Linked DNA regions of Homo sapiens: region 2 is linked to region 1. A link means that fine-mapping ties the variant in region 1 to the expression of a gene that starts in the linked region. Tissue or cell type: esophagus muscle. Region 1 holds a variant in brackets; the other region holds the start of a gene. All regions are shown on one strand. Distances are from middle to middle.

What was found. PIP is the estimated chance that this variant, and not a neighbour inherited with it, causes the effect.
Region 2: it holds the start of DENND6A, and the variant in region 1 is fine-mapped to the expression of DENND6A in esophagus muscle (GTEx, PIP above 0.99).

Annotation. Positions count from the first base shown.
Region 1 is chr3:57,546,858-57,554,964 of GRCh38, forward strand. It overlaps a transcript of DNAH12 not described here and the pseudogene RNU6-483P. Among named protein-coding and RNA genes, the nearest start is that of PDE12, 5.4 kb to the right of the region's middle. The variant A/G (reference allele first, on the strand shown) is at 4,593.
Region 2 is chr3:57,688,180-57,696,286 of GRCh38, forward strand. DENND6A (DENN domain containing 6A) reads right to left here and starts at 4,898. Exons shown (of 20, transcript NM_152678.3): 1 at 4,603-4,898. The coding sequence starts at 4,839. DENND6A-DT (DENND6A divergent transcript) reads left to right here and starts at 5,026. Exons shown (of 2, transcript NR_135550.1): 1 at 5,026-5,163; 2 at 5,637-8,107. RefSeq lists an enhancer at 4,226-4,726 and silencers at 4,448-4,687, 4,798-4,897.

The DNA.
Region 1 (8,107 bases):
AAGATTTAGGCCTGGCAAAGTGGATCAACCCTGTAATCCCAGCACCTTAGGAGGCCGAGCCAGACAGACTTCTTGAGGGAGTTTGAGACCAGCCTGGGCAACATGGTGTAACTCTGTCTCTATTTTAAAAAATTAAAAATTAAAAAAATAATAATAAAGAGATGGGCATGCCCTGAGTCAAACTCCAAACAGCAGCTGGGTCTATAACTGCTCTCCATTTTCTGGTTCTTCCCTTCCTGACAGATAGTCTGCCCTACAGACCATGGACTTGGTTAACCAGCCCCCTCCATTGCATAAGCCAATTCTTTGTTTAAAAAAATATATATATATGTATAGACATACACACACACATATATAGATATAGATATAGATATAGATATAGATGATATGTATTATATCTTAGTGGTTCTGCTTCCCACTTTGAACCCTGACTGATACAATGTACGTCCTTTTTTTTTTTACTTTAAAAAAAAATTTTATTATAGAGACAAAGTCTCACAATGTTGGCCAGGATGGTCTTGAACTCCTGGCCTCAAGCAATCCTCCTGCCTTGGCCTCTAGATGTGCTAGGATTACAGGTGTGAGCCACCACGCCTGGCCGATGTACATCCTTTTTAATAGCCAATGTTTCCAAAAGTGTGTTCTTTTACAAGAACAGATTCCTCTTGAGCTTATACAAATAAATAATATTGCCATAAAACAAGAATACTCATGAATAGTTTCCTAATTCTGGAGATATCAGGTAGAGAGAAAGATAAATATTTCAATTTTACTCACAAAATATACCAAAAAGTTACCAAATTGCTATAAAACTACAGATAATGCAGAGAAAAAAAGTTTTCTTAACTCTGAAAGAAAATAATAATAAAAAGCAACGTTTCAAGCAAAAAAGTCATTAAAATCATTTCAGTCCTCATCAGTTCCGTCCCATGTAATTAATTTTTGTTCTACTTGATAAATTAGCAATTTTAAGTCCAGTTTTTACCATTGGAGTTTCTCAAGTTCTTATTCAGTCCAACTTAATAATCAACAGAGGCCTGTATTCCAGAGTATGTATCAGACTTTTTATCCTTCTCATAAACCTCTTTGAAGACACAATGCTTTAGGATTATATTTGCTTGCAAAGATCATTTAGAAAAAACATTAGAATAAAGCAATTTACTACGAACAACAAGATTTAGAATGGCTATGGTGAAAGACCTGGTAAGAGTTTACAACAATGATGCGATTGACAAGGAAATTTGTTTTTTTCTGTAGTCTATAACAAGTTTACATAGTAGCCATAATTATGACTGATAACATACAAAAAGACACATCAGACTTTTAGGAATCTCATATACTTTTAAAACACATATTAATAACATGTTCATATAAATGTAATGCAAAGGTTTCCTGTATAATTTACATATCAAATAAGCCTAATACGTCTCTCTTAGGCTTCCAGGGGCCATTCTGGGATAACCTAAGGTTAGTTTGAGGCCGAAAAGACTTAATTTAGAATTTGAAATTTGACTTTGGGAAGCCTGTCAAGTATGTCAAAGGATAAAAACACTCAATTAAAATAGAAAAGGCCAGGCTCAGTGGCTCAAACTTGTAATCCCAGCACTTTGGAAGGCTGAGGTGGAAAGATCACTTGAGCCCTGGAGTTTGAGATCAGACTGGGCAACATCAGGGGACTCTGTCTCTACAGAATATTTCTTAGCCAGGCGTTGGTGGTGTGCACTTGTGGGCCCAGCTACTTGGCAGACTGAGGGGGGAGGATCACTTGAGCCTAGGAGGTCGAGGCTGCAGTAAGCCATTACTGCACCACTGCACTCCAGCCTGGGTGACAGAGTGAGACACGGTCTCAAAAAAATTGTTTTTAAATGAAAACAAACGAGGAAAGTTTTAAGACATTTGATCAAAAGAAGATCATAGGTCACTGTAAAATAACAGTTATTCATTTAGCCAAAGTGAAAATTTAAAAGATTTTACAAAGCAGTGCTCATTTCGGCAGCACATAATATTAAAACTGAAATGATACAGAAAAGATTACCATGGTGCCTGCATAAGGATGACACACAAATTTGTGAAGCATTCCATAGTTTTTTTAAAAAAAGATTTTATAAAGCAAAATCCTTCACTTTTTCATAGAGAGAAGACTCAGTTTTCCAAATAATGAAAAGATCTAACAAAGAGAGCAGGGCCGGATGCAGTGGCCTGTGCCCATAATTCCAGGTACTCAGGAGGCCAAGGTGGGAGGATCACTTGAGCTCAGGAGTTCAAGGCTGCAGTGAGCTATTATGGCTGCACTTGTGAATAGCCAATGCACTCCAGCCTGGGCAACAGAGTGAGACTATGTTTATAAAAAATATTTTTAATTAAAAAATTTAATCAGGCCAGGTGCAGTGGGCCACAGCTGTAATCCCAGCACTTTAGGAGATTGAGGCAGGCAAATCACTTGAGGTCAGGAGTTCGAGACCAGCCTGGCCAACATGGTGAAACCCCGTCTCTACCAAAAAATACGAAAATTAGCCAGGCATGGTGGTGCGCGCCTGTAGTCCCAGCTACTTGGGAGGCTGACGTGGGAGAATCGCTTGAACCCAGGAGATGGAGGTTGCAGTGAGCCAAGATCATGCCACTGCACTCCAGCCTGGGCAACAGAGTAAGACCCAAAAAATTTTTTTAAAAATTGTTTAAAGACAGCATGAGGCACACAATCTGTTTCTCTCTCTCTCTCTTCTTTCTTTTGCAATTTACTCAAAAAGTGAACAAAATCTTTTACTATATTTTATTTTATTTTTTGAGACAGGGTCTGGCTCTGTCACCCAGGCTGGAGTGCAATGGCGCAATCTCAGCTCACTGCGACTTCAGCCTCCCAGGCTCAAATCATCCTCCCACCTCAGCCTCCAGAGTAGCTAGGACTACAGGCATGAACCACCATGCCCAGCTAATTTTTGTATTTTTGGTAGAGACAGGGTTTTGCCATGTTGCCCAGGCTGGTCTCAAACTCCTGGGCTTATGCAGTCCTTCTGCCTTGGCCTCCCAAAGTGCTGGGATTACAGGTGTGAGCCACCATACCTGGCTTACTATCTTTTATTAATACCACCAGAAAATCATGTTCAAATGAGAGAACCAAATTTAGTTTTGTATCAGTGTATTACTAAAGCAAATTTCAATAAAACCATAAGGCCAGGCATGGTGGTTCACGCCTGTAATCCCAACACTCTGGGAGGCCAAGGTGGGAAGATCTCTTGAGGCCAGGAGTGCAAGACCAGCCTAGGCAACACAGCTAGCGAGACCCCATCTCTACAAAAAAAAGTTTTTTTAATTAGCCAGGCATGGCTACATACCTGTAGTCCTAACCACCTGGGAGACTGAGGCAAGAGGATTGCTTGAGCCCAGAAATTTGAGATTACAAATGAACTATGACGACACCACCATACACCAGCCTGGGTCACAGATCAAGACCCTGCTTTTAAAAACAAAACAAAACAAAACAAACAATGAATAAATAAATATTAATAATAAAACCTTATAAACAAATAGATCCAGTCTCAGTCAACTTTGACCACATAAGAAATCCATAAGCCTTTTATAACCTCTTACAGTTTTTAAATTTTTTCTCCAACTTTTTATATCCGTTTATTTTTGTATACATTTTTCCATACATTTATTTTTATTTTTATTTTTTGAGACAGAGTCTCACTCTGCCACCCAGGCTGGAGTGCAGTGGTGCAATCTTGGCTCACTGCAACTTCCCCCTCCCGGGTTCAAGCGATTCTCCTGCCTCAGCTTCCCAAGCAGCTGGGACTACAGGCACGTACCACGACGCCCAGCTAAATTTTTTTTTTTTCTGTATTTTTAATAGAGATGGGGTTTCACCATGCTAGCCAGGCTAGTCTCAGAGTCCTGACCTCAGGTGATCCACCCGCCCTGGCCTCCCAAAGTGCCATATATTTATTCTAAGACAATCTTTAAATAACCTTTAATTAGGCAAAAGTTTTTCATTTTTTTTGTTATTGTTTCAGTGGCTAGAAACAATTTTTTTTTTTTTTTTGAGATGGAGTCTCGCTCTGTCGCTGAGGCTGGAGTGCAGTGGCGCAATCTCGGCTCACTGCAAGCTCCGCTTCCTGGGTTCACACCATTCTCCTGCCTCAGCCTCCCGAGTAGCTGGGACTACATGCCCAGCTAATTTCTTTTGTATTTTTAGTAGAGATGGGGTTTCACCGTGTTAGCCAGGATGGCCTCGATCTCCTGACCTTGTGATCCACCCGCCTCAGTCTCCCAAAGTGCTGGGATTACAGGCGTGAGCCACCGTGCCCAGCCAAAACAAAAATTTTTAAACAAAAGCACATATACTCATGACTTAACTTTTCCTCACTAAAAAGATATGTTGTTTTTATCGTACTCTGTATACAAAATTATTTATTTATTTATTTATTTATTTTTTGAGATGGAGTCTCGCTCTGTCGCCCAGGTTGGAGTGCAGTGGCGCGATCTCGGCTCACTGCAAGCTCCGCCTCCCGGGTTCACACCATTCTCCTGCCTCAGCCTCCCTAGTAGCTGGGACTACAGGCACCCACGACCACGCCCTGCTAATTTTTTGTATT[A/G]TTAGTAGAGACGGGGTTTCGCCGTGTTAGCCAGGATGGTCTCAATCTCCTGACCTCGTGATCCGCCCGCCTTGGCTCCCAAAGTGCTGGGATTACAGGCATTAGCCACCGCGCCCGGCCACAAAATTATTTCTTACTTTCAGTAGTTTTAATTACATATATTACTTTGAATTTTAACTCTTAGTAACCCTAATTTCTAGTGACAACCCAGGAAGTCAGTAATTTTGAATTGTTTTATATCAGTATTTGCAGACAACAGCCACTTAATAATTTCTAAAAAGATATGTTTTCTCAAAGTGTTATTAATGAATCCAAATATATTTAGCTTTCTATATCATATGAAACAAGACATCAAAAAAATGAAAAAAAAACAGAACTTGAGAATAAGTGGGAAAAATGAAAAAAAGACATCAAAGTATATAAACTTAAGTTTAATAATTAATGTTTCAGTATTTTCACTTAGAAATAACTCAGACATTTTACTTTTTTTTTTTTTTAAGAGATGGGGTCTCGGGCCAGGCATGGTGGTTCACGCCTGTAATCCCAGCACTTTGGGAGGCTGAGGTGGGCATATCATGAGGTCAAGAGATCGAGACCATCCTGGCTAACACGGTGAAACCCTGTCTCTACTAAAAAATACAAAAAATTAGCTGGGCATGGTGGCAGGTGCCTGCAGTCCCAGCTACTCAGGAGGCTGAGGCAGGAGAATGGCATGAACCCAGGAGGCAGAGCTTGCAGTGAGCCGAGATCACGCCACTGCACTCCAGCCTGGGCGACAGAGCAAGACTCCATCTCAAAAAAAAAAAAAAGAGATGGGGTCTCACTATGTTGCCCAGGGCTCAAACAATCCTCCCGTCTCAGCCTCCCAAAGTGCTGGGATTACAGGCATGAGCCATTGTGCTCAGCCAATGCGGACAATTTATAATTATCTATTACTTCATTTAATACAGCATGACTTTAAGATTTTAAATTACTGAAAAAGTTTTGGAAACTATGACAAGTTTATTTGTAGATGCTTATCCCATTCACAGTTATCTAATTTACTTGTTCTTAACAACTGTATTTCATTTGCTTATGGAAAGCAAAACTAGCCATTTATGTTATTTATTTATTTATTTATTTTCATTAAGCCCCTTCCATTCTAGAAAGTTATTTATTTTGAAAAAACAAAGCCACCAGGTATAGTGTCTCATCTCATACTGCTAATCTCAGCCCTTTGGGAGGCTGAGGCAGGTGGATCGCTTGAGCCCAGGAGTTTGAGACCAGCTTGGGCAACATAGTGGGATCCCCCATCTCTACAACAAATAAAAAACAATTAGTTGGGTGTAGTTGCGTGTACCTAAAGTAGGAGACCAAGGAGTTCAAGGCTCCAGTGAACTATTATGTTGCCACTGCACTCCAGCCTGGGTGACAGAATGAGACCCTGTCTTAAAAAAATAAAAAGTGGCTGGGCGTGGTGGCTCATGCCTATAATCCCAGCACTTTGGGAGGCCAAGGTGGGTGGATCACCTGAGGTCGGGAGTTTGAGGCCAGCCTGACCAACATGGAGAAACCCTGTCTCTACTAAAAATACAACATTAGCTGGGTGTAGTGATGCATACCTGTAATCCCCGCTACTCAGGAGGCTGAGGCAGGAGAATCGCTTGAACCCAGGAGGTGGAGGTTTTCACTGAGCCAAGATCATGCCATTGCACTCCAGCCTGGGCAAAAGGAGTGAAACTCCATCTCAAAAAATAAATAAATAAAGAGCAAAGAAAACACAAAACTAACCTAACCCTGCATCAGCCAGTCTCATCTTAACCAAGGCCTTTCAGATATTGGACAGAGGCACTTTTCCCAATATCCCTTTGTCCTTCTCCAACCCCAGTCACCCTGTTCCTGAGTATCCATGTGGCATCCAGGACAGCTATGAAGGGCAGAGCCCATCTGTGTCCTGGATTTACATACCAGGTATAGAGCCCAGTACAGAGGATAAAGCTGTGAAGATGATGGTGGAGGTTCCAACCCCTCCCAACATGATAAGGATGCAGAGTTGCGCCAGGGAGGACAGGGCCATACTGCACTCAGCTTTACATGCAGCTGGTAGTCCAGGTGATACAGACACACACGTTTCCAGGCTTCACCATGGCCACCTGTCTAGATCTCAGAATCCAGAGGCCCAAAGCCAAAGACAAAAGCTCATATCAAAATGTGTGCAAGGTTTCAGGGGAGCCCCGCAGCCTGACCTCATAGTTTTAACTTATACACAAATCAAGCAAGTATTAAAAATATCACGGAAGCAACAGTTTTATGACTTTAAAACATCTAGCAAAGAAAGCATAAATCTGTCTGACCAATTGATGTAGGCAAAATGTCTAAATTAAATTCTGAAGATATTTCTTTTTTTTTTTTTTCCGAGACAGAGTCTTGCTGTCTCCCAAGCTGGAGGGCAGTGGCGCGATCTCGGCTCACTGCAACCTCTGCCTCCCAGGTTCAAAAGATTGTCCTGCCTCGGCCTCCTGAGTAGCTGGGATTACAGGCGAACACCACTGCGCCCGGCTAATTTTTGTATTTTTAGTAGAGACAGGGTTTCACCATGTTTAGTAGAGATAATGAAACCCCGTCTAATTTTTGTATTTTTAGTAGAGACGGCGTTTTAACATATTTAGTAGAGACAGTGAAATTCCATCTCTACTAAAAATACAAAAATTAGCCAGACATGGCAGTGCACACCTGTAATCTCAGCTACTTGGGAGGCTGAGGCATGAGAATCGCTTGAACCCGGGAGGTGGAGGCTGCAGTGAGCCGAGATCACACCACTGCACTCCAGCCTGGGTGACAGAGTGAGGCTCCATCTCAAAAATAAAAAAATAAAAAAATAATTACATGGAGGCCAATGACAATTACAGTATCAAACACCTTTTTTCTTGCAATTAAAACCAAATGTTTTTAGCTTTTCCCCTTTCAAGAAAATGAAAATTAAAGCTTTTCCATAATTGCAAGCAAAACAACTCTAATGGCCCTCTTAGAAGAAATCCAGAACTTCATACTATGGCTTAGAATGCACTACACAATTTGGTGGATGCATATCTTTCTTATCTGCTACTCTCCCCTGGTCTCACCTTACTCATCACACTGGACCTCTTTCTGGTCTACAGGTAAAGCAATTCATTCGTTCTTCAAGACCTTTTTTTGTTTTGTTTTGAGACGGAGTTTCACTCTTGTTGCCCAGGCTGGAGTGCAATGGCATGATCTCAACTCACTATGACCTCCATCTCCCAGGTTCAAGCGATTCTCCTGCCTCAGCCTCCCTAGTAGCTGGGATTACAGGTGTGCGCCACCATGCCCAGCTAATTTTTTGTATTTTTAGTAGAGACGGGGTTTCACTATGTTGGCCAGGCTGGTCTCGAACTCCTGACCTTAGGCGATCCACCCGCCTCAGCCTCCCAAAGTGCTGGGATTACAGACGTGAGCCACTGGGCCCGGCGTCTTTAAGACCTTTAAAAGAAATAGCAATAAAGTGCACGATTCCTTAG
Region 2 (8,107 bases), 140 kb after region 1:
GAGATGGGGTTTTACCATGTTGGCTACGGCGGTCTCGAACTCCTGACCTCAAGTGATCCACGCGCCTCAGCCTCCCAAAGTGCTTGGATTACAGGCATGAGCCACCACACTCGGCTTATTAAGAGTCTAATCATCTTACAAACTGTTTATGAGAATATTTATGAATAAAAGCAGACTCACAGTAGACATGTTTAGGAGACTGCTGCCCAGACTATGCTTTGGAAGTGTCCCTCCTATTGCAGGGGTGAGCCTAAGTGACTGCTACTGCTAGCGAAACCTTGTCTCCTAACCACAAGTGAACAAAATGGGACACCTGTCCCATGCTGAGCCAATCAGATACTCCAATATTAAGCTTCAGCCTCATTCCAGAAAAAGAGTTTGGCTAAAATTAGTACCATGGAAACCCAAAGTCAAGCAGAGTAACGGGGGAGCAGAAACTGAGGCCACTGCAGCACAAACCAGCTTCAGCATGGAGAAAAGAACAGACATGCAAAGACCAAAGACAAAAAAAAACACACAGCTCCAGAGACAAAGGCCTGGGGCTTTCCAAATCCCACAGGTTCATCCTTGCTTCCCACACACTTGGATTCCAAAAGACTGCCTGGAATCCTTACAATCACTGTCCCTTTACTTAAGTTTATTTGAGGTTTCTGTTCCTAACAATCAAGTTAATCCTTGACAGATACAAAATTATATAAAGAAAAAAAGTATTAACAAAAATGCCGAATATTAATAGCAGTTGCCTCTTAGTAGAATTAAGAGTGATATTTTCTAGTGTTTATAATTTTTCTTTTTTTTTGAGACAAAGTCTTGCTGTGTCGCCAGGCTGGAGTGCAGTGGCCCGATCTTACTGCAACCTCCACCTCCCAGGTTCAAGCGATTCTCCTGCCTCACCCTCCCGAGTAGCTGGGACTACAGGTGTATGCCACTGCGCCCAGCTGATTTTTGTATTTTTAGTAGAGACGGGGTTTCACCGTGTTGGCCAGGGTGGTCTCGATCTCTTGACCTCGTGATCTGCCCGCCTCGGCCTCCCAAAGTGCTGGAATTACAGGCATGAGCCGCCATGCCCGGCCTAGTGTTTATGATTTCTTTACTTGCCAAGTTTTCAGCAATGAGTATGTTATTATTCACTCAGAAAAAAAAAAAAAACTTGAATAAATAAGGTAATTCTGTATTCGGATAATTAAGGCTTTACTAAATAATTGGTAATTTCAAAGCTAAAAGTGAGGTACAGTATATCAAACCCAGGAGGTTTCAAACCTTGTTCCAGAGGACACTTTGATTCTGTGGTAATGCCTCCAGAGCCACTTCAGGGGAAAAGAAGCTCAGCACACCCCCTGCAGTCAACACCTTGTTCAGTTTCTTCCTAGCTCAAAGACCTCCTTAACCCCCTTCACTTAGGACAGGGCCTTAAAAGACATTTTATGCAAGGTGAACCACTCCCCCTTCTACTCAGGGCTTTAGCCAATTGTATCAGAGTAGGAACCTGCCCCAAACCAGGCCAGATTATCTTCCTCTGGCTTTGGAAGTGAGTTAAAGATTCACTCTTTTTCACTGAAGTGGCTAAAAACGTTAGCTTCTCACCTTAAAGATCAGAGAAGGGCTGGGCATGGTGGCTCAACACCTATAATCCCAGCACTTTGGAAGACAGAGGCAGCAGGACAGTTTGAGGCTACAAGTTTGAGACCAGCCTGGGCAACATAGCAAGACCCTGTCCCCACAAAAAAAATTAAAAATAGCCGGGTGTAGTGGTGCATGTCTGTATTCATAGATACTCAGGAGGATCCCTCGAGTTTAGGAGTTCGAGGTTGTAGTGAGTTATGATCATGCCACTGCACTCCAATCTGAGGCAGACCATGTCTCTAAGGAAAAAAAAAAAAAAAAGTCAGGTGCGGTGGCTCACGCCTGTAATCCCAGCACTTTGGGAGGCTGAGGCAGGTGTATCACTTGAGGTCAGGAGTTCAAGACCAGCCTGGCCAACATGGTGAAACCCTGTCTCTACTAAAAAAAACAAAAAAACAAAAAAAACAAAATTAGCTGGGCAGGCCAGGCGCGGTGGCTCATGCCTGTAATCCCAGCACTTTGGGAGGCTGAGGTGGGCAGATCACACTGTCAGGAGATCGAGACCATCCTGGCTAACACGGTGAAACCCCGTCTCTATTAAAAATACAAAAAATTAGCCGGGCGTGGTGCGGGTGCCTGTAGTCCCAGCAACTTGGGAGGCTGAGGCAGGAGAATGGCGTGAACCTGGGAGGCGGAGCTTGCAGGGAGGCGGAGCTTGCAGGGAGACGAGATTGCCCCACTGCACTCCAGCCTGGGCAACAGAGCAAGACTCTCTCTCTCAAAAAACAAAAATTAGCTGGGCATGGTGACATGCACCTGTAGTCCCAGCTACTTGGCAGGCTGAGGCAGGAGAATCACTTGAACCTGGGAGGTGGAGGTTGCAGTGAGCCGAAATTACACCACTGCACTCCAGCCTGGCTGACAAAGTTAGACTCTGTCTTTAAAAAAAAAAAAAAAAATCAGAGAAGGGGAAGAAGGCAGTTTGCAGGGAACATGAAATATAAACAAGATCTGCACACAAAAAAAGAGCAAAACCAAGAGGTTTCCCTGGTTCTGAACTCTAGCCATTTTCTGAAGCCCTACTAGGTTTATGTCTTAAATAGCTGGAAACCACATATATGGAACCACATACATGATTTCATCTTACTCAGCCTTTTCCTAGTGGAAAATTCACAATGTTCATATTTTTAAAAGATCCAGGAAGCAAAAGGTTAAGAACTCCTGACCTAGAAAAAACTCTATACAGTGGCATACACTATGGAAAATGAAATTCAAAATAAGTCCTTTAATAATTCACATTTTTGCAGCATCTCAAATATATTTTCTGTTTATTTGGTCAAAAAACATATTCACGTTATAAAGAATGTCCCAAATAATGAGAATCCAAAAGAATCTCCTTTAGCTATTTAAAAACACAATCAACTACAACAACCCATTCTTATGCTTTCTGGTTAAATTGTATCTTGCTGTACATATAACTTCAGGTTAACATGGCAAGGTGAATAATAAATGGCTTATAAATCTCTTACTCAAAATCTTTGGGAACTGTTTTTCTTACTTTAATAAGATAAAGAATTGCTCACATATTCACCTATTCTATCAAAAGTATTTATAGAATGCCACTAGGTGCCAGGCACTGCATTTGGCCTTATCAGCTACTATGATTAATTCTTGGTTCTCCTCTAAATTATTGCCTCAATCTACAAATACAGATTAGAGCACATCCTATTTGTATGCTCCACAACTAACATAATGCCTGGTTCTTAGTGGAAACTTAATGTCGCTGAACTGTGTTATAATAAAACATCCAGAAGGCAGGCCGAATACGAAAGCAGTAGCTTCGCATTAAGAAAACTACCCCTAGCCAATTTTCTTAGTCAACCAGGCCACTACAGTATTAATGAAATCGAAATCTGTCACCAATACCAAAAAAAAAAAAAAAAAAAAAAAACCAAAACCAAAACGTCTAAACAAACGCCCTTCTGATAACAATTTCCTTGGACACATGAAAGCAAGCAATTCCTTATGCTAAAAAGACCTTCAACAACGTCAAGAATAGATGTTTCTAAAGCCTTTCGGTAAGGGGCCATACATAAGAATGGAAAAGTTGACTGATTGACAAGCAAATGATGTTCCCTATATTCATCTTGACAGTAGTTTCACACCAACTGTTCCAGAGGCAACATAAAAAAAAATAACAGAAATGAGGCCGGGCACGGTGGCTCACGCATGTAATCCCACCACTTTGGAAGGCCTAGGCGGGCAGACCACCTGAGTCGGGAGTTCGAGACCAGCCTTACCAAAATGGAGAAACCCCGTCTCTATTAAAAATACAAAATTAGCCGGGCATGGTCGCATGCCTGTAACCCCAGCTACTCGGGAGGCTGAGGCAGGAGAATTGCCTGAATCCGGGAGGCAGAGGTTGCGGTGAGCCAAGATCGCGCCATTGCACTCCAGCCTGAGCAACAAGAGCAAAAACTCCGTCTCAAAAAAAAAAAAAAAAAAAAACAGAAATGAGGCACAAAAGGAGGAAAGGGAGAAAATGCGTGCTGAGATAAGCATTTCGACTCAGGCTGAGGGAAACGCTCAAACAGTTACTGCAAATGACTAAAACAATCTGAGCCTTAAAACTTGGTTGTGCAAGTTCGGCTACTAGAGTTCATCATCTGTTATGGGCATTGTTCTTGAAAAAGTACCAAACAAACATCCTGCCTGCGGGCTTCTCCGGGTGGGTGCTACTAACCCTTTTAGTTAATTCTGTGACTCTGCGTTTAAAAGAAATAAAGAAAGAACAGGATGAACATCAACAAGTATTTAGGAGGGGCCTAGAGAGAACTTTTCACCCCTAGCCGCAGCCCAAGATCCTCCCACGGGAAGTGCCGTAGGACCGCAGCCCGAAAGAGCGCGGGAGGGGAGACTGGCCACGCCCGGATGCGCCGCGGACAGGGTCCTGGCCGGTCAGCCCGCGGGCCGCTGGCTTTGCTGCAGCCGCCCCGGCGCAGGGGAGGAGCGCCGAGAAAGGGCGGGGCCGGGCCTCACCTCCACGGCCTGGCCCAGCTCCAGGTCGAAGCCCACCACACACACGCAGTGCAGCCAGGCGGAGAAGCTGTCCCAGCGCAGCAGGCCCCGGCCACGGCCATCGTCCTCTTCATCGTCCTCTGGCGCGCCTCCCGCCGCCACAAGGGCCGGCGCCTCGCGGCCCTCGGCCCCTGCCACCGCTTCGTCCAACGGCCTTCGAGAGCCGGGCCCCAAGCCCGCAGGGCCCCTCAAAGCCATCGGCCGCCCCCTGACCGTTCGCGCCGCCTCCACAGCGGACCGCGCCGCAGAGCGCGCTTGCCTCCGCGCAGGCGCAGACGCTGCTGTCGCAGCCGCTGGGGACCCACTCAGTCCGGGCGGGGCTGCGGGTCACGTGACCCTGGGAGCGGACGTGGGGACGTCACGCTGCCGCTTGTCTCGGATTGTGAAGCCGGTCCTGGCTTCCTTGTCTAAAAGCTCTTTGGGACTGAAATGGCTGTTTATGAATCCTTGTCAACCTCGTTCGCAGTCAACGACCAGGGAATAAATTATTCGTGGAATGACACAGTTCATAATTATTATAAGGTATTATTAAATTATGAAAGCGTAGGCCGGGCGCGGTGGTTCACACCTGTAATCACAGCATTTTGGGAGGCCGATGCGGGCGGATCATCAGGTCAGGAGTTCGAGACCAGCCTGACCAACATGGTGAAACCCCGTCTCTACTAAAAATACGAAAAAATTAGCCAGGCGTGGTGGAGCGCGCCTGTGATCCCAGCTACTCAGGAGGCTGAGGCAGGAGAATCGCTTGAACCCAGGAGGTTACAGTTAGCTGAGATTGCGCCACTGTATTCTGTCTACCCTGGGCGACAGAGCGAGATTCCGTCTCAAAAAAATAAAAATAAAATATATGAACGCATAATGGTGACGGTGGCTAACATTGAACGCTTACTTTGTGCCAGTTGATATGCCAAGTACAAGTGCGAATACTTACAAATATTACCTTATTGAATCTTCACATAATCGCAAATAAGTAGACTATTTATTTCTTTTTACAGATAAGGAAATGGAGGTCCTGGAGGTTACATGACTAGCCCAACAAGTATGACAACTCCGATATCGGCTTGCGGTTCACTCATTCAGTTTGCTGATTCAGAGATCTGTGCATTCACTCACCTGTTCCTTCTCCAGCAAGGCCTCCCCACCCTACCACCTCCTCCTTTCTTAGTTTGGCTGTCTGTGACTCACTCAACACACATCCCCAGACCTTTCTGGAACTCCAGGTTGGGCAGATTGGCCTCCACAGCAACCTGTGGATCTCTGAACACTGGGGCAAGGGCCTGGTCTCAAGCAGCTTCGTATTCTGAGATCAGTTTTTACTGAGTATTGGACCAGCCAGGATACTAACTAGTATTTATTCAGCACCTACTATGTTGAGTATAAATAGCATAGTAAAAGTAGGAAACACACAATAATACCTCAACAGAAAAATGAGTAAACCAGCGAGGTGTCACGCCTGTAGTCCCAGGTTCTTGGGAAGCTGAGGCCGGCTAAGTTCAAGGAGGATCGCTTGAGCAGGAGTTCCAGGCTGCAGCGCGCTATGATCGCGCCTGCGAACAGCCATTGCACTCCAGCCTGGGCAACAGAGCGCGACTGTGTCTCTAAAAAACAACGCAAAACAAAAAACACGGCAGAACTTAAGCATTTTGCTGCACTGCCCAGTGAAATCCATTCCATTTGACAAATACTGCCCTCTTAACATTCTTAGAATTTTTTTTTGGAGCAAGTGTTAGCGTCCCTGTTTTCAAGGAGGTGGTCAAGTATGCACAGACATCAGTAGTGACGTTTGCTGGAGACTTCCTTTAGACAAAAATGAACTTAGGGACAGCACTTAAGTTAGAGGCCAAGTCTTTGGCCAAAGTAGCCTGCCATCCTACTCCAGAGAACTGCTGTGGTTAAAAGAGGAAAAACTGTATTCTGCGATCAAGTAAGGCTCTAAACCCAGTATTAGGAAAGAACAGTAGCCTTTTGTATTAGAAAGAACACTGGCGTGGAAGTCAAAAGTTCTGGATTCTAGTGCCAGCTAGAATCTACCACGATCGTGGTAGGCAAGCTGCTCCAAAACCCAGTTTCTGGTAAATGAGAGTGATGATTACTAACTCACCTCACTGACTGTTGGGAAAAGCTAAGCTATCCTAATGTACACATTTTACCAGATGCTACTTCATTATTAATTATTAATGATCTCAAAACACCAGTTGTGGCCAAGCACAGTGGGTCACACCTGTAATCCCAGCACGTTGGGAGGCTGAGGCGGTAGAATCACGTGAGTCCAGGAGTTTGAGACCAGCCTGGGCAACATAGGGAGGCCCCGTCTCTTAAAAAAAAATTAAAAATTAGCTGGGCATGGTGGCACACACCTATAATTCCAGCTACTTGAGAGGCTGAGATAGGAGAATCACTGGAACCCAGAAGGTCAAGGCTGCAATGAGCCATCACTGTGCTACTCTACTCCAGCCTGGGCAACACAGCAAGACCCTGTGTCAAAAACCAGCACCAAAAAAGAACATAAGTTGTTCCACAGGGCTGGTTCTTCGACACATAGACACAAACTGCGATTCTGTGAAGTGTTGCTTTATAATATTGGGTTAAGGAGAAGGTCAAGGCTGCAGTGAGCCATCACTGTGCCACTCTACTCCAGCCTGGGCAACACAGCAAGACCCTGTGTCAAAAACCAGCACCAAAAAAGAACATAAGTTGTTCCACAGGGCTGGTTCTTCGACGCATAGACACAAACTGCGATTCTGTGAAGTGTTGCTTTATAATATTGGGTTAAGGATGATCTTGTCAAAATACAGTACCCTGAAAACAACATATTAGGAGAGCCAGAAGTTTCCAAAGAAAGAAAGCACACCAAAGCTCTAGAGAATTTTGAAAGTAAAAAACTTGTTTGGGGAGAAAAAAAACAAAAACAGAAAAAAGCATTACTTAAATCTTTATACACAGAAACAGAATAACCACTAGGGTAAACAAAGCAGCTATGGCTTTATTTCCCTCTACCTTCGTAACTTTGACATTCTGCCTTACAGTCTATTTTCACACAGTTTCTGTTGTTAATGGGAGCTGAGGAACAAGGTACTGACACCTTCTTATGGTTCATCAAAAGAACCTTTGACTCTGAAAGGATCTTGGATAGGATCATCTCTCCAAACTTCCTATTCATGGATCTTCTGACATTCAGTTAGCCAGCCTCTTTTCTAACACTCTCTATTAAAGTTAAGTCACTAGCCTGTGATCCCAGCACTTTGGGAGGCCAAGGCCGGTGGATCACCTGAGGTCAGGAGTTCCAGACCAGCCTGGCCATCATGGTGAAATCCTGTCTCTAGTGAAAATACAAAAATTAGCCAGGTGTGGTGGTGCACACCTGTAATCCCAGCTACTTGGGAGGCTGAGGTGGGAGGATCCTCTGATCTGGGGAGGCAGAGGTGACAGTGAGCTGAGATCACACCACTGCACTCCAGCCTGTGCG